2 separate regions of the Homo sapiens genome follow, and region 2 is linked to region 1. Evidence: fine-mapped expression QTL. A gene starts in region 1. The other region holds a variant in brackets. All regions are shown on one strand. Distances are from middle to middle.

Region 1 (16,386 bases):
TGGTTACACAGGCATATACACTTGTCAAAATTTATTAAAATGTGTAGGAAAAGTGCTTCTTACTTATCTTCCAAAAAAAGGCTGTGTCTAAATTAACAGATAAGGAAACCAAGGCCAAGAGCCATTAAGAAACTTGCCTAACACACCAGACAGGGTAGCTGTCCCCCAAAATGTGCCCTGTGCAGGCAGTGCCCCGTCTCCATGCTTGTTTCCGCAATGTGGCGGGGAGCCGGGTGACATCATAAATACTTGCTGAATGAATGCAGAAAAATAAAGAAACTGGCCTAAGATCATAGAGCTAGTAAGGAATGGTACTAGAACTTGAATCCAGAGCTTTTGATTTTCCCTGTATGCTACATGACCTCTGTCTAGGTCTATACTTCCTCATTTGCTAGGAATGCCTTTCTACAACTCCAGCCTACACCCAAATTCCAGTGGAATATAGCTGAAATTCACTTTCAGCCACTCACACAACCAATGTCACTACGCAGGTCTTATTCTCTACAGACAAGAATCAGAAGGGAACGGAAATAACATGTGTTGGTCTATTGCCTTACTATATGCTAAACACCAAGCTAGATGTTGTCCATGCATTATCTCATTTAATTCTCACAGACGCCTCACACAGTAAATCTTATTTCCTCATTTTATAGATAAGGAAACTGGAATTTAAAGAGTTTCTTATCTAAAGTCATACAGTTTGTAAGTGGTAAAGCTGAGATTTGAAACCAAGTCTGTCTAATTCAGGGCCTACTTAACAGTGCATCATACTTCAATGTCCCTATTTCCCCTCCTTTCCTAAACAAGCCGTACCAAACACCTTGGGCTCAGAACTTTATTTACCACTGCAGCAACCAGAAGGTGTTCTAAAATCTCCTTTGCCCTTCAACTTTTCTCAGTAAGAGACTTTTTTTATGTGCTTCCAGCATTCTTCCCACTGCCTCCACCAGCACCTACCCTCTTGCTAACCACTACTCTCAATTCCACAATGAATACTCTCTGACCTGACCCTCGTTCATACATTACAGTCCTTCTTGTCCTCACTTCTCTCTTCACTATGTGATCTACTGAATATCCTGGATTTGCTTCCTAGGGTAGGCACAGAACACATTATTCTTGTATCATCTGAAAAAATACTATAACACCACCACAAGCTTGGGTTGCTCAGAGGGCTAAAATTTGCATTATTTCTTGAATACATAAATAATACATGTTTATTGTAGAAAAAACTAGAAAATACCGACAAGTTTAATTTTAACTAGCTTTTTTAAACTATAATCCCACCGATCAGAAATTCCAATCTTCTTTATATGCATATTTACCTATGTAAATATACATTTTAGGGACATCTTACATCTTACATCTGTCTTAAACTGTCTTACTGCAATTTGCTTTTACATTAAACAACATATGATGAACATTTTCTATACCAATTAATATAAAAAATATATTATTGGCTGGGTGCAGTGACTCATGCCTGTAATCCCAGCACTTTGGGAGGCCGAGGCAGGTGGATCATTTGAGGTCAGGAGTTCGAGGCCAGCTTGGCCAACATGGTGAGATCCCCCATCTCTACTAAAAATACAAAAATTAACGAGGCGTGGTGGCACGTGCCTGTAATCCCAGCTACTCAGGAGGCTGAGGCAGGAGACTCGCTTTAACCCAAAGGCGGAGGCAGCAGTGAGCCGAGATCACGCCACTGTATTCCAGCCTGGGCAACACAGTAAGACTCCGCCTCAAAAAAAAAAAAAAGAAAAGAAAAAATATATATGTGTGTGTATATATATATATGTGTGTATACTTTAACAGCTACAGAATATTCATTTGTGGGCACATACTCTGAACTTTTAACCAAACCTTTATTTATTGGATATATCAATTATCACATTGTAACTATCATAAATAATGCAATGGAGTATATTCTTATACATATGTCTTTGCATTTGTTTCCTTTTTTTATTTCCCCATGAAACAATTCTGTTTCCTTATGACAAATTTCTAAATGTAAAATTACGACATTAATTTTTAAAATTTTAATAATACCTTATCAATTTTTCTTTCAAAAACATCATATTAATTTTTATTTTTTATGTTTATAAAAATAATACATGCTCATTATTTAAAATTCAAATAAAATATCATCCATGTAGTATTGCTCCCAAAAACTATCAACAATAAGACAATTTCAAATTGAAGGATTTCTCAAAAATAACTAGCCCAGACTCTTCAAAAATGTCAGTGTCATACAAGACAAAGGCTGGAAATCATTCTAGATTAAAGATGAAGGAGACATAACTAAATCCAATGTATTATCCTTGAGACAACTGGAGAAATGTGAATATGGGCTGTATATTAGTTTGGGTGGGGTTTTGTTTCTTTTTTTTTTTTTTTGAGACAAAGTCTCACTGTGTCACCCAGGCTGGAGTACAGTGGCCAGTGGCATAATCATGGCTAACTACAGCCTTGACTTCCCAGGTTCAAGTGATCCTCCTGCCTCAGCCTCCTAAGCAGCTGGGACTACAGGCACTCACTACCATGCCCAGCTAATTTTTTTTTTTTTTTTTTTTTTTTTGTGTAGATGGGGTTTCACCATGTTGCCCAGGCTGGTCTCAAACTCCTGGGCTCAAGCGATTCATCCCCGTCAGCCTCCCAAAGTGTTGGGATTACAGGCGTGAGCCACAGCACCCAGCCATAATGTTATATTTCCTGTGTATGATATATTTCCTGTGTATGTTATATTTCCTGTGTATGATTTCCTGAGTATGATAATTATATTAGGGTTGGGTAAGAAAATATTCTTGCTCTTAGCAAATGTATGCTTAAGTATTTGGGAAAGGAAATGTCATGATGTATGAGGCTAACTCAAATAGTTCATTAAAAAATAGAGAAGGATAAGAAAATGTGGCAAAATACTAACAATTAGGAGATCCAGGAGAAGAGTATAACAATATTCATTGTACTATACTAGAAATTTTACAGTAGGTTTGTATAAAATATTGTGGAAAAATACTTGAAATTTTTAAAGCTCAAATAATGCAAAGATATATAGTTTATACAGGTTGAGCTTCCCTAACCCGAAAATCCAAAATGCTCCAAAATCTGAAACCTGTTGAGCACCAACAAGACACTCAAAGGAAATGCTCATTGAAACATTTCAAATTTCAGACTTTCATATTAGGGATGCTCAACTGCCTAATGCAAATATTCTGAAATCTGCAAACATATGAAATTCAAAACACTCTGGTCTCAAGAATTTTCCATAAGGAATACTCAACCTGTATAGAGAACTCCTAAGTCTCAACACACACAAAAAATCCAATTCAAAAATGGTCAAAGAATGAAACAGACATTTCTTCAAAGAAGATATATAAATGGCCAATAAGCCTATGAAAAATGCTCATTATCACTAATCATTAGCAAAAATTCAAATAAAAACTTAGATGAGATAATACCTCACACCCACTGGGATGGCTACTGTCAAAAAAACGAAATAACAATTGTTGGCGAGGATGTGGAGGAATTATAGCCCTTATGCACCGTTGGTGAGAATGTAAAAGAGTACAGCCACTGTGGAAAACAGTATAGCAGTTCCTCAAAAAGTTAAAAATAGGCCGGCACAGTCCAGCCTTTGGGAGGCCGAGGTGGGTGGATAGCTTGAGCCCAGGAGTTTGAGACCACCCTGGCCAACATGGGGATACCCCATCTCTACAAAAAATATAAAAACTTAGCCAGGTGTGGTGGCATGTGCCTTTAGCCCCAGCTATTCAAGAGGCTGAGGTGGGAGGATCACCTGAGCCTAGGAGGTCGAGGCAGCAGTGAGCTGTGATTGCACCACTACACTCCAGCCTGGGCAACAGAGTGAGACCCTAACTCAAAAAAAAAAAAGTTAATAATAGAATTATCATATGATCCAGCATTTCCACTTTCATGTTTATAATCAAAAGAATTGAAAGTAGGGTTTTGAAGATATATTTGTACACCCACGTTCATAGCAGCATCATTTACAATAGCTAAAACTTGGAAGCAACCTAAGTGTCCATCAACATACGATCGGATAAGCAAAATGTAGTATAATCATACAATGGAATATTATTTAGCTTAAAAAGGAAATTCTACAATATGCTACAACAGGGATGAACCTTAAGGACATTAGGCTGATGAAATAAGCCAGCCACAAAAAGACAAATGCTTTATGATTCTACTTATATAAGGTACTTAGAATAGTCAAAATCACAAAAACAAAGTAGAATTGTGATGGCAAGGGGCTGGAAAGAAAGGGAAATGGGGAATTATTGCATAAAGGGTAGAGAGTTTCAGGTTTACAAGGTGAAAAGATGGTTGCATTATTAATATACTTAGTACCACTGAACTGTATACTTAAAAATGGTTAAGACAGTAAATTTTATGTTATGTGTATTTTACCATAATTTTTAAAATAGAAAAAACATGCATAGCCTACTAAATTGAAGCCAGTCATAATCAGTCCCCAAAGGTAGTTATTTTTAACAGTTTAATGTAAAATAGTCCAGATCTTTCCTAGATATTTACTAAATACATATACATACATACTCTTTTAAAATAGAAATGTGATGTATCATATACTATTTTGAAATTTGCTTTCATTTAACAATACAACTTAGATATCCTTCCATATTAGTACATCTCTCTCATTTTTTCAAGAACTTGTTTTAAGCAAATACATGAACATCTAAAGAAAGAATAGCCTCTGAAAGACCTTGCCTACATTGGAAACGGCTCAAGAGAGCTCACCCGAAATTCCATGACATCCACAAATGACTGGTAGTAGTTGGTGAGGAATCTAATTATCTCGGCTTTTTCACGATGTACTGGTCCTAAATGTTGCTGAGAGAAACACAAAACAAAACAATAAAAAAGTGCAAAATAAGACAATTGATCCAAATAACTCAAGAAGAACAGTGGTTATACCTAAAACATTCTTAAAGAGGGTTGAGGCCGGGCGCAGTGGCTCACACCTGTAATCCCAGCACTTTGGGAGGCCGAGGCAGGCGGATCACCTGAGGTCAGGGGTTCAAGACCAGCCTGGCCAACCTGGTGAAACCCCGTCTCTATTAAAAATACAAAAATTAGCTGGGCGTGGTGGCGGGCGCCTGTAATGCCAGCTACTCGAGAGGCTGAGTCAGAAGAATCACTTGAACCTGGGAAGCAGAGGTTGCAGTGAGCCAAGATTGTGCTACTGCACTCCAGCCTGGGTGACAGAGCAAGACTCCATCTCAAAAAAAAAAAAAAAGAAAAGAAAAGAAAAAGAAAGAGAGTTGAAATATACTGACAGAGGAAGTTAGAAACGCTTCAGTGCTCTGAAGGTCTTTAAACAAAGGAGATTGTCTATCTAGGTAGAATGGTTGCATGTGATCCTGACTAGATACAGAGGGCTAAATGAGAGGAAATTTTAAGCACCCTTTCAGATGAACAGATATACTATTTATATCAAAGTCAAAAGAAACAGAATTCAAAGATGCTACAAAGATGGGTGAAAAATCTAGGGTTAACATTTAATAAGGGAAAAGTAGAGATATCCCATTAGATGCAGAAATCTAAGACAAACAGCAAGGAAACAGTGAGTGGGAAACAGAAACAATAAAATACATGTACCCTGCTGGGTTGATAGAGCTGTCTTGTACAAAAACAATGTTTTCCCATGAATCTTGCAATGGAAAAGGGGTGATGATTCGCTCCAGCTTATGCTGGAAGAATCCCATCTTATCTCAAAATGCTCAAGACTTAAAGCTCTACAACAACCTGAAGCCCTGTGGTTGAGCCTTGGAAAACTATTAATAAAAAAAGACTACTCCATCCCCTGCCAAGTTTGAAGAGAGGCATCAAAAGAGGAGAATTTCAGCCATTCAAGCAGAGAATTATTCAGAGAAAGGAGAGAAGGACCAAGTTCTCACCGTGCTGTTTCGGACATCTATGTTGGGAAATTTCTTGTTGATATACTTGAGAGATGGTTCCATGGACTTTTCCAGTAAGAAAGGTGGCTTAGATTTGGGGTCTGAACAAGTCTGCAGAGAGAAACCATATATATTTCAACCCTTTCTCCTCCTCCTCAGAAACATACCTCTTCTTGCAACATTCATTCTCATAATCTGTCTTAGGAAAAGGCAACCTGGGAACTAATTTAAAAAGCATGAGAGGCTGGGCGCAGCGGCTCACACCTGTAATCCCAGCACTTCGGGAGGCCGAGGCAGGCAGATCACAAGGTCAGAAGTTCGAGACCAGCCTGGCCAACATGGTGAAACCCCGTCTCTACTAAAAATACAAAAATTAGCTGGGCATGGTGGTGCACAACTGTAGTCCCAGGTACTTGGGAGGCTGAGGCAGGAGAATCGCTTGAACCCGGGAGGCGGAGGTTGCAGTGAGCCAAGATCGTGCCACTGCACTCCAGCCTGGGCGACAGAGCGAGACTCCGAAAATAAATAAATAAATAAATAAATAAATAAATATAAAAATAAAAAGCATAAGAGTAGGTCAAGAAAAAATTCCAAGACATTAAGCCAAGTATCTAAGAGCGAAATAACAACCTAGGCATTTTGTCTTGATGGGTAGAGTTTAATGCCTGCTTGGCCCCAGCACAAAGAGGAAGCTGTTTCCCCGCCCCTCAACTGAAGCCGGAAGGAACAAGAAAAGCAGCTGCTCAGGAGTTAGACTTTGTACAAGATTCAGTGTCACAATTTTGTTCACTATGTAAGTATCTTATCCCAAAGGGCATTTACAGGATTCATGGTGACAGAGAAACCGTGTTCCTGGTGATTTGTTTTATTACAAAAAACACAAAAGCTCCCTCCCCCAAAGTCCCCTATTTTCTATGCCAGGAACTCCCCATAAACACCCCTGTCTTTATCTCTTTACTTCCTATGGTTTGCCCAGCCCCTAGCCCACCTCTTGTCACTAGCTTCTTTCAATTCCTCAGTTCCTATTCTAAACACACACACACACACACACACACACACACACACAACCACCACAGCATGAACTACCCCAGGAGCAGCTCAGAAGACACCTACCCTTTTTAATCTAAATACCTAATTATCTATTTTTTTTCCTTTTAGGGAAGCACTTCCACAGAAAAGTTTTTGCCAGAGACCCAGCTTCAGATCTCTTCAGAGTGTAGAGGATCAACAATAAATAATAAAACCCAGAAGGTTGGACCCCAGACCTTTATCCAAGTCACTTGGAATACCACTGTTGTTTCCCCATCCCCACCCTCACCCCCATCCCCAGAGGAAAGCAGATGCCATCGTTGGGGCAAGAATCATATCTAGAAAGGGGAAGCCTTGAAAAGAAGCCTCCACTTCTGCCTTCCTGAACTGGCTGGCCTGTATAATCTGAGTGATTATGTAGATTATAGTCAGTGGAAAAGCAGTGGAAAAAAAGGTGGGAGTCTAACTGCTGCACCTGCCGCCTCAGGGTTCCCTGCCCTATTATTGTTGGAATAATCAGTACTAGTCCCATTGTTCATGCTTACCTTCTTGATGTTATACATACGGATGAGAACCCCCTGACCGCGATCATTCAGGATAGTGAGCTTCTCTGCTAATTTATGCTGGTAAGCAGATGTCAAAGACATGATGGCCACTGAGAGAGGAGCACCAGACAGCAATGTCTGATCTCCCCAAACACTTTCAGCTTAGATGGTGACACCCTCTGGCGGAGGGACCCAGCCTGGTTGGTGCACTGGTCTTCTGTTGCCTCTGCAATTGGCTCATGGGTGAAATCAGTCATTATGGCTCACAGGCCCTCAGAGCCTTCTTGTGCTTCCTCTTGCACACTCAGCAGGGGAGACTTCCTCTTTCTGGCTGTGCAGCACTTTTGGTAAGGCTATGAAGTGGGTGGAGCTGAGGAGAAGGACAGGCTTTCAAGGCTCTTCACAGACTGCACCAACCTTTTTGGTCTTATGCCCCCATAAGTGTCCTAGACAAAGCTGGGCGTGGTGGCTCACACCTGTAATCCCAGCACTTTGGGAGGAAAAGGTGGGAAGATCCATTGAGCTCAGGAGTTCCAGACCAGCCTGGGCAACATAGCAAGACCCCATCTCTATAAAAAATAAAAATTAAAAGCTGTAAGCTAGATAAACAAGTATCTACCACCCCACCCCTGTACACCTCTATATTTTCCTTCTTTTATATCCAAGAATGCCTATGAACCTTTGGCCTCATCATGTTTTAGTACCCAGATCAAATCCCATCTTCTCCTAAAGACCCCATCAATGTCAAATATTATATTGTATTATATTTTATATTGTCAAATACATATATTCCTTGTTATATGTTTATAGTGTACGTTGTATCTCCCCCAACTACAGCATAAGCTCCTTAATGACAGGAATTGTACCTAATACTTTTTTTTCTTTTTTTTTTTTTTTTTGAAACAGAGTTCCACTCTTGTTGCCCAGGCTGGAGTGCAATGGCATGATCTCTGCTCACTACAACCTCCACCTCCTGGGCTCAAGCAATTCTCCAGCCTCAGCCTCTGGAGTAGCTGTGGTTACAGGTGCCCACCACCACGCCTTGCTAATTTTTGTATTTTTAGTAGACATGGGGTTTCACCGTGTTGGCCAGGCTGCTCTCGAACTCCTGACCTCAGGTGATTTACCCGCCACAGCCTCCCAAAGTACTGGAATTACAGGCATGAGCCACCACACCCGGCCTCTAATACTTTTTTATATTTCTCACAATGCTCTACTACAGTGCATTGTACTTCTACAGTACATAATAATTCTCAAAGTAGTTCTCAAGAAGTACATAGTAATTCTCAAAATGTGATCCAGCAGCATCAGCATCACCTGGAAACTTGTTAGAGATGCAAATTCTTAGGACCCGCCCCAGACCACTGAATCCAAAATTCTGGGGTGGGTCCAGGCACTCTGTGTTTTAACAAACCCTCCAGGTGATTCCAATGCACACTCAAGTTTGAGAACCAGTGCTCTAGTACCATGGTATTTATGGATGCTTGAGAAACAGATCAATCCCTGTCCTCTGAGATTAGCATTGGTAGGTAGGCGAGTCTGTTGTGGGGCCTAGAAGTCTGTACTTATATAAGCACTGTTGTAGGAGGTTTTGGTACAAATATTCCATTCTGAAAAACACTGATCTAGAACAATACCTCTTGGACACAGTAGTCACTCAATAAATATGCTGGTTTATTTGTTGAATTATTAAGACTAAATTAGGAAATAGGCCCCATGAAGAAGAACCAAATTAATCAAGATTAAAAAGAGGAAATTAGTAATCACCCTTAAATCTTAGAGACTTGAATGAATTTTAGCATTAAAATATTCTTGCCATTCCAATGAGGCCTTAACTCCGTAACTCAAGAAAATTTTCAACTCTATTTCAACTTTCTTTCAAGACACAAAGCAAAAGGTCCTAGGAAAAATTATAAATCAAAAAGAGTTCTCTTCATTTCCACCACCTTGCCAATTCCTTTTCTCAGGTTTTTAATCATTCCCATTTTCCGTATCCAGAGTTCCCATTGTCCCAATAAATTCTAGGGAGTGGGAGAAGAGAGACAAGGCTGATCAGCATTATTACTTAAGAAGTTGGGGCCAGGTGAAGTGGCTCATGCTTATAATCCCAGCACTTTGGGAGGCAAAGGTAGAAGGATTGCTTGAAGCCAGGAGTTCAAGACCAGCCTAGGCAACATTGTGAGACCTTCCCCCACCCCTCTACAGATAAAATAAAATAAATTAGCCTGGTGTGGTGGTACATGGCTGTAGGCCCAGCTCCTCAGGAGGCTGAGGTGGGATGGTCGCTTGAGCCCAGGAGTTCAACACCGCACTCCAGCCTGGTCGATAGAGCAAGACTATGTCTCTAAATAAATAAATAAATAAATAAATAAATAAATAAAGGCAAGAAAGAAAAAAAAACTTGAGTACTGTGTTCACTATTTGGGCATGGGTGATGGGTTCATTAGAAGCCCAAATCTCAGCATCACACAATATACCCATGTAACAAACCTGCATGTGTATCCCCTGAATCTAAATGTTTTTTAATTTTAAAAAGAAACTTAACATCCATGCTCCAAAGAGAATGTATTTTTAAAAGAAGCAGCAAGATGGCAACACTTAACGCATGAAATTTCAAATATCTCTAAGGTAGAATTTGCATTTTAGGAATATAGAATCTGCCTTCCATTTTATTTACTAGACTGGGTCCCTAGAAAGCTATGGGCTCGAGGTAATGTGATATTGGTCATGAAGATTTGAATTACCTGCTGTTATCAAAGAAACCCAGGTTTTACTAAAGCAATTTGTAGGATTTCTACTGGTCTTTTACCTTTACCAAGGAGAATATGGAGCAGACAGTAAGAGGCCAACATCCAGGAAGCTTAGCAGCAGCATAGCACCGGTCTTCGTGGGGTTAGTGTAATTCTAGCGGCTCTTTCTTGCATTCCTTTTTTTTTTTTTTTTTTTTTTCCTGAGACAAGCTCTCGCTCTGTTGCCCAGGCTTGAGTGCAGTAGTGCTATCATGGCTCACTGCAACCTTGACCTCCCAGGCTCAAGAGATCCTCTCACTTCAGCCTCCTGAGTAGCTGGGACTTCAGGTGCAGGCCACCACGTCTGGCTAATTTTTGTATTTTTTGTGAGCCACCTCACTTGAATTTCTTGTCTTTATCCTGAAAGTGTGGTTGAAGACTCTGCATCCCAAGCTAATCTTGTTTCCTGCTCCTTAATGGATACTCCCCAACTTGGTGGGGACCATCTTCTCAGCCTGCTGTGAATGTGCTATGTTCATGTCTGCCTCTCTGACTTCACTTACGCATGCTTTCCTTCTTGCTTACCCAAATCCTAGTCAATCTTCAGGATCTAGCTCAATAGTCCCAAGTCTAGGTTTTGCCGAACTCCCACAACACTTGGTCTATACCACATACTTTACATCTAAATCAGGTTCTGTCCTTAACTGCCCATTTCATATAATACTGCCTAGCCAGCTGAACCAAAAGATTGTTGAAACCTGGAAACACTTATTCCCCTGTACTTGGTATATGCGAAAAGCCTACCTGCTGTTATCAGACAGAATTTGGCTCAAGTGTAGTTGAGTACAGTGGGCTGAGCCTTATGATTTAGTGACCGAGAGCCCAGGTTCTGGAACCAGATATCTTGAGTTCACATCCTATTTATCCTGTCTGTAAAATAAAGATGATATTGATAATACTTCCTATTTCACGGAGCTATTGTGCATATTTTAAAAGTTATAGCCTAGTTACTTACTCTGTACATGTAAAGCATTTGAAGTACTATAAGCACTCAAGCTTACATGTATTACCTCAATTAATATTAATAATGCTAAACACTTACTAGCTTTGTAACTTTAGCTATCTATCACCATTGAGTTGTTTCCTAATCTATAAAATGGTGGTAATCCCTCATACGACTGTGGAACTGATGAAATAATATGGCATATGTAAACATTTGGTTCAAGACCTGCTACATTGGATTAGGAATGTCAACAGTAAAGTAAAATTTTGATCTTTGAGTGTGTAGTGAGCTTGTTATGTCACTTTCTGTGGATTCTATTTGACACTCATAAAGAAAAACTCTAGGTTTAAAAATGGAACTAGGCCAGACGCAGTGGCTCACATCTATAACCCCAGCACTTTGGGAGGCTGAGGCAGGCAGATGGCTTGAGCCCAGGAGTTCAAGACCAACCTGGGAAACATGGTGAATCTCCATCCCTACAAAAAATACAAAAATTAGCCGGGAGTGGTGGCACACACCTGTAGTCCCAGCTATTCAGGAGGCTGTGGCAGGAGGATTGTTTGAGCCCAGAAGGTTGAGGCTACAGTGAGCTGTGATTGCACCATTGCACTCCAGCCTGAGAGACAAAGCAAAACCCTGTCTCAAAAAAAATTTTCTGGGCTGAGTGTGGTGGCTCACACCTGTAATCCCAGCACTTTGGGAGGCCAAGGCAGGCAGATCACCTGAGGTCAGGAGTTTGAGACCAGCCTGGCCAAAATGGAGAAACCCCATCTCTACTAAAAATACAAAATTAGCCGGGCGTGGTGTCGGGCACCTGTAATCCCAGCTACTCAGGAGGCTGAGGCAGGAGAATCACTTGAACCCAGGAGATGGAGGTTGCAGTGAGCCGAGATCAAGCCATTGCCACTCCAGGCTGGGTGACAAGGGCAAGACTCCGTCTCAAAAAAAAAAAAAAATTTTGCCAGGCACGGTGGCTCACGCCTATAATCCCAGCACTTTGGGAGGCCAAGGTGGGCGGATTACCTGAGGTCAGGAGTTCAAGACCAGCTGGCTAACATGGAGAAACCCCATTTCTACTAAAAATACAAAAAAATAGCCAGGCTTGGTGGTGCACGCCTGTAATCCCAGCTACTCGGGAGGCTGAGGCAGGAGAATCGCTTGAACCCGGGAGGCAGAGGTTGCAGTGAGCCGAAATCATGCCATTGCACCCCAGCTTGGGCAACAAGAGCAAAACTCCATCTCAAAAAAATTAATGTAACTAACTATGCCAACTGGTAGTTTTTAGAGAAACTTATTGGAAAGATCATTCAGCAGTTTCTCCCATAAACTGGAGGAACCCTTCTAAAGGTATTTAATTACTCCCAAAGTATGGCCTGGTAGACCTAGAATCCCCTGTAGAAGTCTTTCTTTTTTTTTTTTTTTAATAGAGACAGGGTCTTGCTCTGATGCTCAGGATGGAGTACAACTGTGTGTCATGATAGCTCACTGCAGCTTTGAACTCCTGGGCTCAAGTGATCCTCCTGCCTCAGCCTCCCATGTAGCTTGGACTACAGGCACACGCCACCACACCAGGATAATTTTTTAAATTTTTTTATAGAGATGGGGGTCTTACTATGTTACCCAGGCTGGTCTTAAAATTCTGGCCTCAAGCAATCTGTCTGCCTCAGCCTCCCAAAGTGCTAGAATTATAGGTGTGAGCCACTGTGCCAGACCTGTGGAACTCTTTTAAAGCCACAATTAGCCAGAGCCCATTCTTGAAGATTCTGATCCAGTAGTTTTGGAGTGGGACCAAAGGACCTGTCACTTTAAAACTACTCAGTGATTCTCATGAACAATCAGGATTGAGAGCCAGTTCTCTAAGACTTAACTATGACATCAAAAATTTCCGAACCTCTGAGAAATCATAGAACATATGGTGGGAAAAGAGGAATTGAGTAGCTTGAATGGAAAGTTGATTCACATCACCAGACTAAAAGGTACTGTGCTTTCCCTCTCCTCAAACTTCAGCTATTTGTCTTATTTTTGTCTTACCAAAGGATCGTCTTCGCCTTCAAGTCACACTTGCCTTCAGATTCTTGACAGACACTCCTTCAAGAATAAGGTAGGTCTCAAGATCCTTTAGGCTAGGTTTAAGTGTCAAGGTGGCATCAAGGTTGGGAATGCTTTGGCCATGTCTAACATATATCAAAGGAAATGGTCTTAGCCTCCATTCAGCTATCCATAATCAGGTGAATAACCCAGCGTCACCAATTCTCGCCACCTATTCTAAAGCAGTCTTCATTTATTAAGACCAGGCTTATCAGTCTGGTCAAACTTCATACTTTTCTAGGCTGCTGGCCAAAATGAGGGTTTGGGGTTGTCTGAAGACTACATTTGGGTTATTGAAGATCTTTTTCCATTATCTTTAAAAATCTAAAGATAACAGTATACAACATTGAATTATGCTGCAGCCTTTATTTTCCAGAGAGCCAATTCACTTTATAATAAGGGTTCATGGCTCTAATATAATCATTAATATGCAGTGAAAGCTTTAAACAACTACCCTGACTTGTATTCCTGAAAGGTACCTGAGTCTAAATCCCTGGATTTAGTCACCAAAATGCCCTCAGGAAAATCTGACATTTAATAGTCTAGCTCTGTGCCCTTTATCTATGCCCTAGGCATGATGCAAAGCAGAATTGAAATGGACTATTCTAAGGCACTTTTCTATCCCTACTGCTTATTCCAGTCTGCCTTGATCTTATTTTTCCTCCATCAAACTATACTGTCCATGCTTTGCAGAAATCTCGGTGTAGCTGTTGCCTGGAAACTTGAGAGTCCTTAATATGAACGTCTGCTAGGATAGCTAAAGACAGCTAGCCATGGAAGAAAGTAGGCCTTATATTGGCAGTAAAATGTAGCAGATCTGAGATGGTATATTCTTGAATCACTTCTAGGAGTCTTCATATGTTAATACCTACAACTTTAGAAATTTGAGACTGACATTCTCAGGTAACTATAAAGTAGCCCAAGATTGGCATGTTGGCATGTACCTGTAGTCCCAGCCACTCAGGAGGCTGAGGTAGAAGGATTGCTTGAGCCCAGAAGTTTGAGGCTGTCATGTGCTATGATCACACCTGTGAAGAGCCACTGCACTCCAGCCTCGGCAACATCAAGGCCCCATCTCTAAAAAATAATTATTATAATTATAAAGTAGCCTGAACTTAAGCATTGTACTGTTCATACTTCAGATTCCTTTTCTCCAACAGTGGCTATGCTGACCTATCTGACAATTAGCATCTTTCCCTGGCAAAGAGCTTAATTTAGGTAAGTTGGAAAAGGGATGGAGGGACCAATGCTGAATAGTAAAGGAACCAGCTGTCCCAGCCTTTCTTTCTCCAGCACTCAAGCTTACAGTATGAAATTTCACTGGCTGGGCGCTGTGGCTCATGCCTGTAATCCCAACACTTTGGGAGGCCAAGGCAGGCAGATCACCTGAGGTCGGGAGTTCAAGACCAGCGTGACTAATATGGAGAAACTCCGTCTCTAATAAAAATTTAAAATTAGCCAGGCTTGGCACATGCCTGTAATCCCAGCTACTCGGGAGGCTGAGGTAGGAGAATAGCTTCAACCCGGGAGGCAGAGGTTGTGGTGAGCCGAGATCACGCCATTGCACTCCAGCCTGGCCAACAAGAGTGAAACTGTCTTAAAAAAAAAAATTCATCTTACTCCAGACTGAGTTTTCCAAGGACCTTTGCCTGTTTAATACTTTATTTGAGAGACAAGCACTCTATCTAACACAACTTATAAGACTAAAAATATATACAAACGTTAATTTTTTGCATGGAAGCAGTGAATTTCCCCTACTGTCTAACTGGCTAGGCTATTGCTTTGGTTACTCGAAACTTTCATAGGTAAGACTTGAGATACTCCTATCTTTCATATTACTTTTGTTTTGACAATATAAAATAGGTCTATGCCAAGACTACCTGATCTTAAATGTCATTCTTTTTATTTGACAACCTGTGGTTCCTACCATTTAGTCCTCATGGAGCCAGAAGCCTTAGAAATGTGTCCTTATGACCCAAACCACAGGAGGCCAGCCAGCAGATTACAGTACCACCTGTCATGCAGAAGAGTAAGTTTTCCTGATAAGAACTGTAAGCCACTAGAGGGAGAAAATAACCTCAGAAATAAAAAGTTAACGTTTTTAAAAAAAAAAATTAGGCTGTGTGCAGTGGGTCACACTGTAATCCAAGCACCTTGGAAGGCCAAGGTGGGAGGATTGCTTGAGACCAGGAGTTTAAGACCAGCCTGGACAACATGGCAAGACCTCATCTCTAAAAATAAAAAATAAAAATAGGCCAGGTGCTGTGGCTCATGCCTGTAATTCCAGCACTTTGGGAGGCCGAGGTGGGCGGATCACGAGGTCAGGAGATCGAGACCATCCTGGCTAACATGGTGAAACCTTGTCTCTACTAAAAAAAAAAAAAATACAAAAAATTACCCGGGCGTGGTGGCGGACGCCTGTAGTCCCAGCTGCTGGGGAGGCTGAGGCAGGAGAATGGCGTGAACCCGGGAGGCAGAGCTTGCAGTGAGCCGAGATTGCGCCACTGCTCTCCAGCCTGGGTGACAGAGCGAGACTCCATCTCAAATAAATAAATAAATAAATAAATAAATAAATAAATAAATAAATAAATAAATAAAAATGAAAATAAACAAGCTTCTGACCATATGTAGCACCTGGCAGTTCTTAATGTTGGAACATGGTATCTGTCTTCAGCATTTCCAGAAAGGGGTGGAGGATGGAATACAGGGAAAACCTAGAACTTTTTCCTTCTAGAAAAATCAAAGATTCTCTCCCTCTCCCTCTCCCTCTCCCTCTCCCTCTCCCCACGGTCTCCCTCTCCCTCTCCCTCTCCCCACGGTCTCCCTCTCCCTCTCTTTCCACGGTCTCCCTCTGATGCCGAGCAGAAGCTGGACTGTACTGCTGCCATCTCGGCTCACTGCAACCTCCCTGCCTGATTCTCCTGCCTCAGCCTGCCGAGTGCCTGCAATTGCGGGCGCGCGCCGCCACGCCTGACTGGTTTTCGTATTTTTTTGGTGGAGACGGGGTTTCGCTGTGTTGGCCGGGCTGGTCTCCAGCTCCTAACCGCGAGTGATCCGCCAGC
Region 2 (16,386 bases), 23 kb after region 1:
AGGAAGTTATAGACAACTGAATATTTTATGCCCTTAGGAGGCTAATCCTTACTTATTTTCTAGAATAATCTTCTTACTTTATCTTTTTTTTTTTTTTTTTTTTTTTTGAGACAAGTCTTTACCTGTCACCTAGGCTAGAGTGCAATGGGGCAATCTCGGCTCACTTCAACCTCCAACTCCTGGGCTCAAGTAATTCTTCCACTTCAGCCTCCAGAGTAGCTGGAACTACAGGCACACCCCACCACACCTGGCTAATTTTTTGTAGAGACAGGGTTTCACTATGTTGCACAGGCTGGTGGGGTCAAGCAATCTACCCTCTTTGGTCTCCAAAAGTGCTGGGATTACAGGCGCAAGCCACTGTACCTGGCCTACTTTCATCTCCTGACTAAGGCCTTACACATATTTTCAATTTTTAAAATTATCCTTTGGTATATCGACACCACATTATAAAAACAAAAAAAAAGTTCCCTAAGAATAATGACCCAATATCATCAAATGTCTTTCTTTTTTTTTTTTTTTTTTTGAGATGGAGTGTCACTCTGTCGCCCAGGCTGGAGTGCAATGGTGCAATCTCGGCTCACTGCAACCTCCACCTCCCGGGTTGAAGCGATTCTTGTGCCTCAGCCTCCCAAGTAGCTGGGATCACAAGCGTGCGTCACCACGCCTGGCTAATTTTTGTATTTTTAGTAGAGACGGGGTTTCACCATGTTAGTCAGGCTGGGCTCGAACTCCTGACCTTGTGATCCACCCACCTCAGCCTCCCAAAGGGCTGGGATTACAGGCGTGAGCCACCGTGCCCAGCCCATCAAATGTCTTTCTTTATCATATTTTACATATAGAGAATCTTCCCTTAAAAGGCCATACAGTCTTATTTGACGTGACCACAATGATTTTGTTTTTCCAAACAAGGATATTTTTGAGTATGAAAGGGCTCACTATCAATAATTATCCTGGCTGTAATCCCAGTACTTTGGGAGGCCAAGGAGGGTGGATCACCTGAGATCAGGAGTTAGAGACCAGCCTGGCCAACACGGCAAAACCCTGTCTCTACAAAAAATTAAGAAATTGGCCAGGTGTGGTGGTATGTGCCTGTAATCCCAGCTACTCGGGAGGCTGAGGCAGGAGAACTGCTTGAACCCGGGAGGCAGAGGTTGCAGTGAGCCAAGATCACACTACTGCACTCCAGCCTGGGTGACAGAGCAAGACTCCATCTTTAAAAAAGTAAAAATAAAAATAATGATACTGGGACAACCAGACTAATCAGGTTGGCCACCCTAGTCTTAAGAGAAAAAAACATCATTTATTAGGCAACTGTGTCATTCAAAATATGGGTGCCAGAGCTACTCAAATCTTTAAGAAATTCTGAGGCCTTCGAAAGAAAGCATAATAGAAGTTAAAACATCACTTTGTGGCTTCTAACATAACATTTGGTCAAAGCTTTGAGAAACACCAAATAAACTTATGGGAAAAAAAATAAAAGCACATGCATTTTTTTTTCAGTAGAGTTTAAAAGTAATTGCCTCAAAGCCTTCCTAGATTTCCCAAAGCCTAAACTATTCCCCCATGTTCCCATAACAGGAGTCTCATGTCTCCGAATAACCTTTCATTCCACTTTATTATTGTTAAGCTATAGGACACTTGAAGATAGGTATGATCTTGACTATGTAGTCATCCTGTACCTAAAAGCAAGATTGCTGAATGTGGAGAATCTATATCTTATCAATGGGATAAAAAAAGACTCAGTAGTCTGGGCTAAATATTTCTCTCTTTTTTGTCTTTTTTTCTTTACTTCTTGTGGAGAATACCACAAGGTCTCACTATGTTATCCAGGCAGGTTTCAAACTCCTGGGCACAAGTTATCCTCCCACCTCTGCTTCCCTAAGTGTTGGAATTACAGGCGTGAGCCACTGCCACCAAACCTGGGCTAAATATTTCTATCAGAATAAATCAACCTTTCAAAAACTTTGGTAACCAGGTTCTCTTCTCTAAAAAGTTCTATTAGCTAAGCATGGTAGCAGGTACCTATGGCCCCACCTACTCAGGAGGCTGAGGAAGGAGGATCACTTGAACCCAGGAGGTCAAGGCTGCAGTGAACTGTGTTAACGCCACTGCACTCCAGCAGCCTCAAGGACAGAGCAAGACCCTGTCTCAAAATAAAATAAAATAATGAGTTCTATTAAGGTAATTCAAGGCCAGGCACAGTGGCTCATGCCCATAATCGCAGCACTTTGGGAGGCCAAGGCATGAGTATTCCTTGAGCCCAGGAGTTCAAGACCAGCCTGGGCAACATGGCAAGACCCCATCTCTAAAAAAAAAATGTTAAATTAGCCAGGTATGGTGGCAAGTGCCTGTGGTCCCAGCTACACAAGAGACTGAGGTGGGAGGATTGATGGAGCTCAGAAGGTTGAGGCTGCAGTGAGCCGAGATTGTGCCACTGCTGGGCAACACAGTGCGACCCTGTCTCAAAAAAAAAAAATGGCAATTTCAGTTATATTTCTGGAATAGTAAAGAATTTCCAGCTTTAAAGTTTATCCCCTAAAATCAGGTTTTAAGGTTTAAACCCTTACACTCATAGTATGAACTACGAGGGAAAAAATTGCTAAGGCCTGTTACTCATGTCCTAGATATGCACCAAAATATGCACCAAAACATATCCCATTAGTTCCACATCTTTATCTATCCTGTGGTTGGTCCATACTTTACAGGCCTTTTTGCTCTGCCTTTCCAAGTAGCTGCAGTATAAAACAGGCTCAAAAAAACCTAAATATTTTAGTCTCTTTTTCCCCCATGCTCTTCACAAGATAGATGATATCATATAGTTGCTGCAGCACCTGAAAAAATACACCTGTTCTCAAGTCAAATAATCAAGTATCTACTATGTTACTACTTAATTAAGAACTGTAGTGTATTGGGGGAAATAGGGAGATAGATGTTGGTGAAAAGGTATAAATATTCAGTTTAAGATGAATAAGTTCTAGAGACCTAATGTACTGCATGGTAACTATAGTTAATAATAATGTATTACATACTTGAAATTTGCTAAGGGAATAGATCTTAAGTATTCTCACCACACACACAAAAAAAGATAACTGTGTCAGATAATAGATTTGTTAATTAGTTCAATTGTGGAAATCATTACACAAGGTATACTTGGATCAAAACACCATGTTGTACACCTTAAATATATACAATTTATTTGCCAATCGCCTCAATTAAAAAAAAAACTGTAGTGGCCATGGTCCATTATTGGGGAACAATGTTGGCAACTATAGTATAGGGCAATGGTTCTCAAACTTTATTGGATATTAAAATTATTTGGAGGGCTTATTAAAACACAGACTGTAGGGCACCTCAGCCCCCAGAGTTTCTGATTCAGTTGGTCTGTAATGGGGCCCAAAATGTGCATTTCCTCAAATCCCAGGTGATGCCGATGCTGCTGGTCTATGCACCACACTTTAAGAGCCACTGGTGTCACGGACAGTTTCAGTGCTGGGAGGATAGGAGGGTGGAGGAAGATTACAAGAAAATATAAGGATTTGGGGCTGCACGGTGGCTTCTGCCTTTAATGTCAGCACTTCAGGGGGGCCAAGGCAGGGGAATGCCTTGAGCTCAGGAGTTCGGGACCAGCCTGGGCAACAGGGCAAAACCCTGTGGAGAGAAGAAAAAAAGAAAGGGAAAGGGGAGGAAGGAAGGGAGGAAGGGAGGGAGGGAGGGAGGGAGGGAGGGAAAAGGAAGAAAAAAGAGAAGAAAAGAAGGAAGGAAGGAAGGAAAAATGTAAGGACTAATCCCAAGTAAAGGTTAAAAGAAGGCTTCACAGAGAAAATTAACCTTGGATTTAAACATTTTATATGCCTTAAAATAATAGATCCACAAAACAGCAGTGTTGGAATTTTAGAATTGTTCTACGGAAGACCAGTCCTTTACAGAACTTTTAGTAAGGTTTTTTTAGTATAATTCTGCCCTTCTACCATCTTTTTCTTTTTCAACATAATCCATAGGTTCACACCTCCTACCATCTTTTCAACAGTCTTTTAAGAAGTTACCAAAGTGATGCTTATGAACTTTGGCTTACAATTTACATCTTAGGTGCCAGCACTAGAAAGAGAGTAAGAGATATTTGTTGCTGAGTCCTGGGGAAAGAACTATATATGTAAAGGAAAAACATAAAGAATAGATTTGTCAGGTATACAGGTAACTATTACAGGCAATGTGGATTACAGAAATACGTAACATTTACATGTTAGAACATAGAATGGCTCTAGGACAAACAAAATATCACTACCAGTTTTTCTTCACTCATCCTGTATTTTGCTTTAGCTTCTAGAACTGAATGTTGGCTCTTCTTGGCAAGTCCTCATTAGCAACTCTTTTTTAAACATAAATTTATTTTCATTGGCTCTCACTACCTCTCCCTGCTACTTTTCCTGAACAATTGTAACCAACCCCATATTTTCACCCTCCCCTAAAGCAATATTTCCTAATCTATTCTCACTTATTCTCACCAAGAAGAATATCTGTTACCCCATAGAGCCCCTCTTCTTTTTTTTTTTTTTTTTTTTTTGACACGGAGTCTTGCTCTGTCACCCAGGCTGGAGTGCAGCTCTGCCTCCCGGGTTCAAGCGATTCTCCTGTTTCAGCCTCCTGAGAAGCTGGGACTACAGACAGACACCGCCATACCCGGCTAATTTTTTTTTCTTTTTTTTGTATTTTTAGTAGAGATGGGGTTTCACTATGTTGACCAGACTGGTCTCAAACTCCCGACCTCAGGTGATCTGCCCATCTCGGCCTCCTAAAGTGCTAGGATTACAGGCGTGAGCCACCACGCCCAGCCGAACCCTCATTTTGAAAGAATTTGCAACTGAATTTATTGAATAATTTTTCCATTTTTAATTATACACCCAACTGCCAAACAGAAATCATAATTAGATGAGAGAAAAATTAATAATTAGATGAGAGAACCAGGACTTGATTAATAAAACCTAAGCCAGAAACAAAAAAATATATTTTGGTCTTTTGACGGGCAAAAGTTTTAAGTTTTATTAGGGTTGTCTGAAAACAGAAAGTTTCTAAAGAACCTCAAGGACTACTGGAATGCCTTCAATCCTAAAATCTGAGAAAACTATCTTCCTAACAAAGGGTTTTTTCCAATAACTAAGAGAATAGATCTATTTATTCATTAGTTCAGATATTTTATTTTTACTATTATTAATTCTTTCGTTTTAAATTTTTCTTCTTTGAGACAGTCTTACTCTGTCGCCCAGTCTGGAGTACAATGAACTGCAAACTCAGCTCACTGCAGTCTTGACCTCCTGGGCTCAAGGAATCCTCCCACCTCAGCTTCCCGAGTAGCTGTGACTACAGGCACCCACCATCAGGCCTAGCTAATTTTTGTATTTAGAGAAACAGAGTCTCATCATCTTGCCAAGGCTGGTCTCAAACTACTGAGCTCAATCAATCCACCCGCCTCAGCCTCCCAAAGTGCTGA[G/C]ATTACAGGCATGTGCCACCGCACCCAGCCAACTATTATTAATTCTAAGAATATAATCTATAGGAGGCTGGGGGTGGTGGCTCACACCTGTAATCTCAGCAACTCTGGAGGCTGAGGTGGGAGAATCACTTGAGGCCAGCAGTTCGATACCAGCCTGGACAATATAGCGAGATCCCCACCCCCAATCTCTACAAAAAATGTATACACACACACACACACACACACACACACACACACACACACACACACAACATTTAGAGGTAAATGCTAGTATATACACAGATAGAACCAGCACGGATCAGATTCAGTTTAGGGTATTAATTCCCAATAGCTCCTAGAATGACCCTTGTATAAAATGCCTTGTCTCATTTTTTTTTTCCTTTTCAAATATGATCAACCTGGCTGGAAAACCAGTCTAAAAGAAAGCTAAGCAGGGACCTCAGACAAAGCAGAAAATTTATAGTTAGAAAGGAATGAACAAAATACTTAAGAATAGAAAGAACAGATGTGTGGTGCATTTTTATTTCAAAATCACCATTGAAAAACAGGTTTGATTTTTGCTTGTTTGAAAGTTGGTTGGCTTATTCACAGGTGCTAAATGAAACAGCATTATCAGTTGAGGATCCTGTCATTCTGACAAGGCATTACTACTGAATGCAGTGAAGCCTGACTTTGGATTCTGGTTTGGTACCCATTCCCCTATCCTCCCAAGCCCTTAGCTCTTTCTTCCTCAGAAATTTCAATCTGCAGGTATCTGAATAAAATGTATTTATGGGTCACAGTAGCACTGTCAACAATTTCACCAGATTACTGCAATGTAAAGCCTGAAAAAATATTTCATTTCAAATCACACTGGCCCCAACAATCTGCATTAATGATACTGTGATAAAATCAGAGGTTTAGGATTTCATGAAAATTGTTTTAAAATATTTCCTAACAATCTAAAACTGATTTGCCAAAACAACTTTTTCCAAAATGATTAGTGCTAAGCTTGCAATGAAGCTTTCCTTCTTAGCAATTATCTTTCGCAAACCACTTTAACAGTTTGCTCCTCCTTCAAATGAATCATCCAGGCCATGGGTGAAAGAATGGCTTTTTTGATTTCAAAACAATGCCTAGGTCAGTTGTTCTCAGCCCTGGCTACACATTAAATTCATCTGGGTAGATTTTTAAAAATAACTATGCCTGGCTCTTTCACATTAATTGGTGTGGGATGGGAAGTTGGCATGGTATGTCTTAAAAGCTCCCCTGATGATTCTAAGGTGTAGACAAGATTAAGAACCACTAGCCTACAATGGCTTGAGCCTGGCTTCCATCAACACTTGGTTCTTTTTAGTGTCTTAATCTGAACTGATGGCTGTGGAGCAAACTCTCTTCTAGTAGGAAAAAAAGGTCGGGGGGAGGGGGTGCGGAGGGAGTAACAACAATAAACGCTCACAAATTAATCATGTAAAACGAAAACATCCCTTGCCCGGCGCAGTGGATCACACCTGTAATCTCAGCACTTTGGGAGGCCGAGGCAGGCAGATCACCTGAGGTCAGGAGTTTGAGACCAGCCTGGCCAACATGGTGAAACCCCCGTCTCTACTTAAAAAAAAAAAAAAAAAAGCTGGGTGTGGTAGTGCCTGCCTGTAGTTCCAGCTTCTCAGGAGGCTGAGGCAGGAGAATCACTTGAACCCAGGAGGCGGAGGTTGCAGTGAGCCGAGATCATGCCACTGCTCTCCTGCATGGGCGACAGAGCGAGACTCCATCTCAAAAAAAAAAAAGAAGAAAAAGAAAATGCCCCACTGATCCTTTTTACTAAAGCTACATTCAGTTTTTGTCAGGGTAGTCCTCTCAAGTCCTATTTGGGCTCTACACCACTGAAATGCTGTAGAAATCCCAATATTTCACTGCCCAGACTAATCACCCAGACTGCCTCCTACATCTTGAACAGCACAGAATGTTTTGTCATATCTTTTACTTCTTGGTTTTGAAAAATATTACCACCAGATCTACTTGTAGTGTCAACACCTTCCTTTTTTTGTCTAACCTTCAAAGGCTACAAGTCCCTTTTCTCTATAATGCCTTCCCAGGTCATTTCAGGCCCCATTAATTTTTTTCCTTACAGGAATTTACAGTCTCTACCACTTTTTTTGGCATTTTTTGTACTGCTATTAAACCTTTCATCCACTTTGGGAGTCGTTTTTCTAAGCACTCTGGGGACAAGAACTGCAGCTTACACTTTTTTTCCCCAGAACAAAGCCTCACACTACGTTTGGTTTTCCCTTAACAAGTTGTAACCTTCCGGCCTTCTTGTCCTCTCCAACTCTTCATTGAGCTCTCTCCCCAACTCTAAAACTCGCTTTCATCAGGCAGCAACAACCATCATCCTACCAAGCATTCTCAGATAGTTAGTGCCTTTTGAATTTTGGGATTTTACAACACATTCTAAACAAGAACAGCCAGACACAAAATTCCTGTCCTTGGTGATTGTTTTGTGGCTGCACTGCGTATCTCCTTTATAATTCCTCTTCTCTTCCCTCAAAATCTAAATTACCTTTCTATCTAGACAACTTCCACAAACAAGGCTTCTTTCTAGGCAGCTCCCCACCTCTAACCAGTTCCATCAGTCCCATTCCCTCAGGCGCCATTTTTTTTTTTTTTTTTTTTTTTTTCCTGAGACGGAGTCTCACTCTGCCGCCCAGGCTGGAGTGCAGTGGTGCAATCTCGGCTCACTGCAGCCTCCGCCTCCCGGGTTCAAGCAATTCTCCTGCCTCAGCCTCCCAAGTAGCTGGGATTACAGGCGCCCGCCACCACACCCAGCTAATTTTTGTATTTTTAGTAGAGACGAGGTTTCACCATGTTGGCCAGGCTGGTCTTGAACTCCTGAGGTAATCGCAGGTGCCCATTTCTAAGTGCTCATCTGCCTTTTCTAAGATGGCCGCCACAAAACCCAGGGAAAGAAATGCGAGTTCTACCCTCTCAAGGCCACTGTTGTTCTGGGGGCCAGGGGAGGATGGCCCCAAAGATGGGGTGCCCAAGGAGGAGATCCTCGTGGGAAAGGGTCATCAGGGAGCTGACCCTAGGGGCTCACAGGTGAACTCCACAGCTGATCCACCCTGCCCCACACTCAGCCAGAACCGAGACTCCCAGTCACAGGAAGTGCCGGCCCCTCGCCCCACCTCCCAACGTTAGGCGCCGGAAGTGGCCGTTGCTGGGGCTTGCGTGGGAGGAAGGTGACTGTGAGGAAGGTGTGTGTCCACCGAGGTAAGGAAAGGCACCCCGGGGCGCCTCTAAGCAATTCCTATTTTGCGTACCGGGATACCTTCACCTTCTAATATCCTCATTTCGCTTTTCTGCTGGTAGCCTTCAGCCTTGTGGGCTCTCAATGCAGCTATTTTGGCTACCAACCTGTTTCGCTGCATTGCCCACTCGAGGGCCTCCTTGGCGCCTTTTCTATGTTTTTTTTAAGTTAACCACCTCCCCCACTTTCTCTTATTTAGTCTCATTGATTAAGTCTACTGTGATTTTGTTGTTGTTGTTGTTGTTTAAAGGAAGAAAAATGATTCTTTTACTAAGGCCGGAATTCTGTTAAGCGTTTAACCAGTAGCCGCCGACTACATCCATACCCTAAACTTGATTGCTTCCGGCGTAGCTTGTCTATTTCACCGTGATCTAGTAGTAGGGAAAAGGTAAAGAATCCCGTTAACAGTTTGATGCGGAAGATACTTAAAACAGACACGGCTAAGTGATGGTACTGTGAATTCCAGTGCCCCTAGTGTACTGTAATTCGTCCTTTTGTCCGGGAAGAATAGGTTGGCTTCCTACAAGCTGCTGAATCTGGTGCTCATCACTTAAAATCAAGAAACATACTTGGTTCTTCCTTCCAAAACTCTTATTTTTAATGAAAAAGTATGAAGTAACTATGTATAAGTGAAATATATACAAAAAGACGGTGGGGATTTCTTGATCCAAACATAAATATGAAAAATATTTTTAAGACAAATTCACTAATGATTGTCATTAACAAATGGGCTCAGTAGCAAAAAAACTAGAGTTCTAGCTGATCACTTGTATTTCCTATCATAGGTTCTAACGCTGCTTATGTCACAGAATGGGGGGAGGGGTGGTGAGGAGTGTAGAATTGTGTGAGGGGCCAAAGGAGAGCATGCTCTAGAGACAGACAATTTTCAGAAGTTTCGTATGGGGATGGTTTTATATAAATTCAGGTTTTTCCCACAATAATAAATGTATTTAGTCTCAGTGCTCAATAGAAGAGATTTCTAATAGAAAAGGATTCAAACTGTGAAACCATTTCTCTTTTAATGTTTCACATTCCTGTTACAGATTTGTTCTCTTGTGACTCTGTTATCCATAATATGGACAGTTCTTGAGTCCTAACATTGAGAGGTTTTCCCTTAGTGCATAGAGGGAATGAGTATTAATTGGAGAAGCTTAAAGTATTGCCACTTTAGCACTGAAGATTGGGATGAGAGGAGGTGAAACCTCACTAGAAAAAGGGACAATGTTAGTGTGGCCCTTCCTGATCATGTTTAAGAAAAGTCATGAAAATGGTGAACTAGTGTTTCCAAGCATATTGGAAGGGTTGAGTGTATACTGTCTGTCAAAGACTTCCAGCATTTCCAGGTCCTAGAGAGGAACAAGACTGGTAACCTGCCTATCTGTATTTTTAAGAACCCAGGAGGAAAGCTTTATAATAGAACATTATTTCTGTGTTTATGTATAAGGGGTTTTTTGTTTTTTTAAAGACAGGATCTCACTCCATTGTCCAGGCCAAGTGCAATGGCACGAACCTCATAGCTCCTGGACTTAAGTGATCTGCCTGCCTTTGCCTCCTGAGTAGCTGGGACTACAGGCATGAGCCCCCATGCCTGGCTAAGTTTGTTTTTTTGTTTGTTTGTTTGTTTGTTTTTGGGGGGGGGTTGTTTTGTTTTTTGTAGAGACGTAGTCTTGCTTTGTTGCCAGGCTAGTCTCAAACTCCTGGCTTCAAGTGATCCTCCTGCCTCAGCCTCCCAGAGTGCTAGGATTACAGGTGTGAGCGACCACGCCCAGCCCTCATGCATAAGTTTAAATGACAGTATTCTTGTGGTCTTGACTTGCCCCCTCTAATGTTAAATATTATATGGATATTTATATTATAATCACTATTATATTAATAGTGTCAAACCCTAATAGATGCTAAACAGTGACAGGCACTTAAGTAATAGCACTTAAGGTAGACATCTTATCACCCAAATACAGCTTAAATTTGAACTATAGGAGTCATATTTGGTTTTTCTTAACTATTTGGTAGGCCCTAGAATTTATTCCAAGAATGTGAATTAGGCCATGATGTTAAAATGATTCCAAGAAGAATGCTTTAAAGAGAAGAAAATATTGGGGGGAGTGGGGAGAGTAAAGGTTTCTTATATTGAACTTGGGTAGTTTCAAATCCAGAAGTGACTCCACTTCTTAGGGTTACCTTTTGGTACATTTTATTTCTGATTTCCTGAATCACACTTTTGTTTTTTCCAGCACTTGGATTCAGCTTCTTCATTTCCAACATGGAAGAAACTTACAGTATGTACTCCTTGTTGCTTTTAGAAAATAAGTTAAATCATTTACGTATAGTTTTATATCTGACAAGACTTTTAGTGTGCTGGGAAGAAGTCGGACTTCTCAACTGCTAAGGAGGAAAAGTCTTTATGGTATTGCCCAAATTTGAAATAAGATACTTGAAAATTAAGAAAAGAGGTATGAGAAGTCATAAAGCTTTGAAAAGGCCACAGTTAGGACACCTTTGTTAAACTATTAAATGAGGCAGGACTTCACCTTCTTGTATGTATGACACGGGGATAGTAACTTCTACTTTCTATTTTGAGGAGTAATATATAATAATGTTGATGTACATTAGTTTTTAGGATAAGAAATCTGGGAAGGATTCTTATTTCTCAAGTGATCCAGGAACCTTAGATGGCCCAAGAAATCAAAGCAGAGCCAGCACCTAGAATCATACAAGTGTAGAACCAAAAGGGACTTGAAAAATCATCTATTACAACAGAGACAACAGAACCTAGATTAATTATTTTGCCCAAGTTTACATAGTTAGGGACAGAGTCAGAACCAGAGTCTTCTATATTGTTTATACCTAGTACCCTACATGACACCACAGGCTCTGTTCTAGGCTCTGACTAAATTTGAGGAATATCTGAGTTTATGCCCGTGGATAAAACTTGTCAACAGTACCTACTTTTTCTTCCTACTTTGCTGTCTTGTTCAGAATCTCATTATAATTAAAAGTTCCAACTAAAGGATATTTCAGTCCCATTCTACCCTCTAGGAAGAGTCCAGTGGAGAGCTATATCTCCAAAATACAGAAACTACATAGAAATAATCTTTATTAAATATCTAGAACACAGTAGTTCTCAAACTTGTTAACATGCAGCAGAATCACCTGGAAAGCTTGTTGAACCAGATTGCTGGGTCCCACCTGCAGATTTTCTGATTCAAAAGGTCTGGTATCTGAGAATTTGCATTTCTAACAAGTTACCAGGGTGATGCTGATCTGAGGACCACACTTGAGAAAAGGGATCCCCTGCCCCTTAATTTTTCTTAAAGTTTTTGTTTTCTTTCTTTTGAGACAGAGTCTTGCTCTGTCACCCAGGCTGGAGTGCAGTGGCACAATCTCGGCTCATTGCAACTTCCACCCTCCCGGGTTCAAGCAATTCTTCTGCCTCAGCCTCCTGAGTAGCTGGGGTTATAGGCGTGTGCCACCATGCCCAGCTAATTTTTGTATTTTTAGTAGAGACCGGCCGGGTTTCACCGTGTTGGCCAGGCTGGTCTTGAACTCCTGACCTTGTGATCCACCTGCCTTGGCCTCCCAAAGTGCTGGGATTACAGGTGTGAGCCACCACACCTAGCCTTCTTAAAGTGTTTTTACTTAAGATGTGAAATTCCTGAGCCAGGCGTGGTGGCTCATGCGTGTAATCCCAGCTACTCAGGCAGCTGAGGCAGGAGGATCACTTGAGCCTAGGAGTTAGAGGTTACAGTGAGCTATGATCACACCACTGCACCCCAGGCTGGGTGACAGAGCAAGACCCTGTCTTTTTTTTTTTTTTTTTTTTTGAGAAGGAGTCTCGCTCTGTCACCCAGGATGGAGTGCAGTGGTATGATCTCAGCTCACTGCAACCTCTGCCTCCTGGGTTCAAGCGATTCTCCTGCCTCAGCTTCCTGAGTAGCTGGTACTACAGGTGCATGCCACAACGCCTGGCTAATTTTTATATTTTTAGTAGAGATGGGGTTTCGCCATGTTGGCCAGGCTGGTCTCGAACTCCTGGCCTCAAGTGATCCACCAACCTTGGCCTCTCAAAAGTGCTGGGATTACAAGCATAAGCCACTACGCCTGGCCGACCCTGTCTCTTAAAAAGAAAAAAGAAGGCTGGGTGCGGTGGTTCAGGCCCGTAATCCCAACACTTTGGGAGGCCAAGGCAGGTGGATCACAAGGTGAAAAGATCAAGACCATCCTGCCCAACATAGTGAAACCCCGTCTCTACTAAAAATACAAAAATTAGCTGGGCCTGGTGGCACTCACCTGTAGTCCCAGCTACTCGGGAGGCTGAGGCAGGAGAATTGCTTGGACCCAGGAGGTGGAGGTTGCAGTAAACCAAGATCACGCCACTGCACTCCAGCCTGGCGACAGACCGAGACTCCGTCTCAAAAAAATTAAAAGAAAAAAGAAGAAGAATGTGAAGTCCCTGTATGGTATATATACACTTATTCTTGGAAGCATACTACTGTCTATTAAATTAGAAAACAACATCTCCCCTTTCTGTCTCTTACTTCTTCGTTACTTTTTTCAGCCACATTTTTTTTTTCTTAAATATCACCTGGGAGTGTGTTGGAAATGGACAATCTCAGCGCTCATCCCAGACCTACTGAATCAGAATCAGCACTTTAACACAGTCCCTAAGTGATGTAACACCTGGAGAGTAAGTTAAAGTTTGAGAAACACTGCCTTAGACTATAGTTTCCCAAATTGACCTGGATTTCCAGCTTAATCTTACAGATTCCTGAACATCTCTGTCTTCTCTCTTTGGACTGTACCTCTTAGCTGATGATACTTTTGTCAGGCCTAGTTCCTTATTTCCATGAAGTTTTCTCCATTTCTCACCATGGGTTCTGGTCCCTACCCAAATCTGAGTAACAGCTGAGTCTGTGCTTTTAGAGGAAGCTTGTCAAATAGACCTACTTCGTTTTCGAAAGTAAATTATATTCCCAGGAAGCCAGACAAAAATTTGTAGAGCAGTTTGATAGTATTTATTACAACTTTTAATGCACAGACACTTCAATGCAATACTCTTAGGTGTTTATCCAAGAGAAATACTCATACATTGGCCGGGCACGGTGGCTTATGCCTGTAATCCCACCACTTTGGGAGGCTGAGGTGGGCAGATCACAGGAGGCTAGGAGTTTGAGACCAGCCTGACCAACATGGCAAAACCCTGCCTCTACTAAAAATACAAAAAATTAAACAGGTGTGCCTGTAATCCCAGCTACTTGCGGGGTGGAGGCACAAGAATCACTTGTACCCAGGAAGCAGAGGTTGCAATGAGCCAAGATCGCACCACTGCACTGTCCAGCCTGGGCAACAGAGCAAGACCCTGTCTCAAAAAAGAAAAGAAATACTCATACATGCAAAAAGAAGAATAAACTAGATTGTTAGTCACAGCATTGTATATAATAGTAAAAACTGGGCCAGGCGCGGTGGCTCACACCTGTAATCCTAGCACTTTGGGAGGCTGAGGCAGGTGGATCACCTGAGGTCGGGAGTTTGAGACCAGCCTGGCCAGTCTCTACTAAAAATACAAAAAAATTAGCCAGGCATGGTGGCGGGTGCCTGTAATCCCAGCTATTTGGGAGGCTGAGGCAGGAGAATCACTTGAACCCGGGAGGCAGAGGTTGCAGTGAGCCGAGATTCGCCATTGCACTCCAGCCTGAGCAACAAGAACGAAACTCCATCTCAAAAAAAAAAACAAATCTGGAAACAATGTAAATGTCCATTAATAAGAAAATCAAAAATTTGATACATCCATATGCAGCAGTGAAATATTTCTTATATGTAGTGACTTGGAAGGAACTCCAAGATACATTAAGTGAAAAGAAAAAAAAGCAAATTGCAAGACAGAAGATAAAGGAAATGGCCGAATGTGGTGGCTCACACCTGTAATCCCAGCACTTGGGGAGGCCGAGGCAGGTGGATCACCTGAGGTCAGGAGTTCAAGACCAACCTGACCAACATGATGAAACCCCGTCTCTACTAAAAATACAAAAATTAGCTGAGCTTGGTGGTGGATGCCTGTAATCCCAGCTACTCAAGAGTCTGAGGCAGGAGAACCACATGAACCCAGGCGGTGGAGGTTGCAGTGAGCCAAGATCGTGCAACTGCACTCCAGCCTGGATAACAGTGAGACTCCGTCTCAAAAAAAAAAAACAAAAAACAAAAAAAACACACAGGAAATTCTGTCACATGTTATAACACGGATAAACCTTGAGGACCTTAGGCTAAGTGAAATAGGCTAGTCACAAAAAGCAAAAGACTGTGATTTCACATATATGATGTATCTAGTCAGACTCACCAAAACAAAAAGTAATGGTGGTTGCCAGGAGCTGGGGGCAGTGGGGAATGGAGAGCTGATGGTTAATGGGTATAGAGTTTCAGTTTAGTAAAACAAAAAACTTTTGGAGACTAGTTGCACAACAATAAGGAATATATTAATGCTTAACACTACTGAACTGTATACTTAAAATTCATTAACATGGTAAATTTTATATGTGTTTTTAATCACAGTTAAAGATTTTTGTCCCAGCTACTCCGGGGGCTGAGGCACAAGAATCGCTCGAACTCGGGAGGTGAAGGTTGCAGTGGGCCGAGATCGCGCCACTTCACTCCAGCCTGGGCAACAGAATAAGACTCTGTCAAAAAAAAAAAAAAAAAAAGATTTTTAAATCAAAAAAATTTTTTTAATCTAGAAAGCCAGGTTAAAGTTGACCTAAAGTGCTGGAGACCAGGAAGTAAAGCATTACAATGAGAAGCTCTCATTATCAACTCTGACATATGCTACTATATGGGCAGTATAATATATATGAATCATAAGGTACCATCCAGTCTATCAGCTGCTGACATGGCCTAACATTTGCTAGTGATGGGAATGGATTAAATCAGGGGAAACTAACAAGAATTTCATCTGTAAATTCTCCCTGGTTGTCCTGAAGCTTCGGAAATATGAAACATTGCTGGTCAAGAAGAGCCTGGTTAGCATAATAAGCCTGCCTGTCCTTTAAGACTTTTCCTTCCTATTCATTCTGTCCTTCAAGTCACCTTTCTGGCTCATTTGCATCACGATCATGGTTGGCAATTTATTCCATGTTTACCACTCTTCCAGTGAAACTGTCTGTTTCAATTCCCCACTGGCTTCTGATTTTCCTAGCAGTCTCCTGGTTTATAAGCTTCTTATCAAATGTGAATTGTTTATCTTATTTCACTTTTATCATTGCCTTCAGGGGTGGCAAGAGCAATTTATTAGGTTGCCTCTTGTCTTCATAATATACCAGAATGTGCTTAACCATTTAATTTCCCTTCCTTAACCAGGCTTGTTAAAATTTGGGGCACAGCCTGGTCATCTTGTATAGCCTAAGGGTTGTTTTAAATAGCATTTTATAGGTTAGGGGCTTTCTTTCACACAGCAGTTCCATATGTCTGCAGTTGTCTTAACCTCAGAAGGTTCTGTTTTTGCACATTGTTCCTATTTTTTTAGCTGGCTAATGTAGTAGTCACTAGATTAAAGAATTCTCTGTTTTGTTCTCACATGTGTTCCAAAATATGAAAAGTAAAAACTACCTGTCTGATAACAGTATTGGTT

What was found. PIP is the estimated chance that this variant, and not a neighbour inherited with it, causes the effect. A credible set is the group of variants that fine-mapping cannot tell apart.
Region 2: its variant is the best candidate, but not a certain one, in a credible set for the expression of NCKAP1L in whole blood (INTERVAL, PIP 0.70).

The regions. Positions count from the first base shown.
Region 1 is chr12:54,489,010-54,505,395 of GRCh38, reverse strand. It overlaps NCKAP1L (NCK associated protein 1 like), which reads right to left and starts at 7,644. Exons shown (of 31, transcript NM_005337.5): 1 at 7,505-7,644; 2 at 5,931-6,041; 3 at 4,771-4,863. The coding sequence starts at 7,606. RefSeq lists enhancers at 7,453-7,512, 7,623-7,682.
Region 2 is chr12:54,465,894-54,482,279 of GRCh38, reverse strand. GTSF1 (gametocyte specific factor 1) reads left to right here and starts at 8,678. Exons shown (of 9, transcript NM_144594.3): 1 at 8,678-8,734; 2 at 11,003-11,047. The coding sequence starts at 11,032. GPR84-AS1 (GPR84, ZNF385A, ITGA5 and GTSF1 antisense RNA 1) reads right to left here. Exons shown (of 4, transcript NR_120487.1): 4 at 15,250-15,439. RefSeq lists enhancers at 8,350-8,409, 8,075-8,601. The variant G/C (reference allele first, on the strand shown) is at 5,486.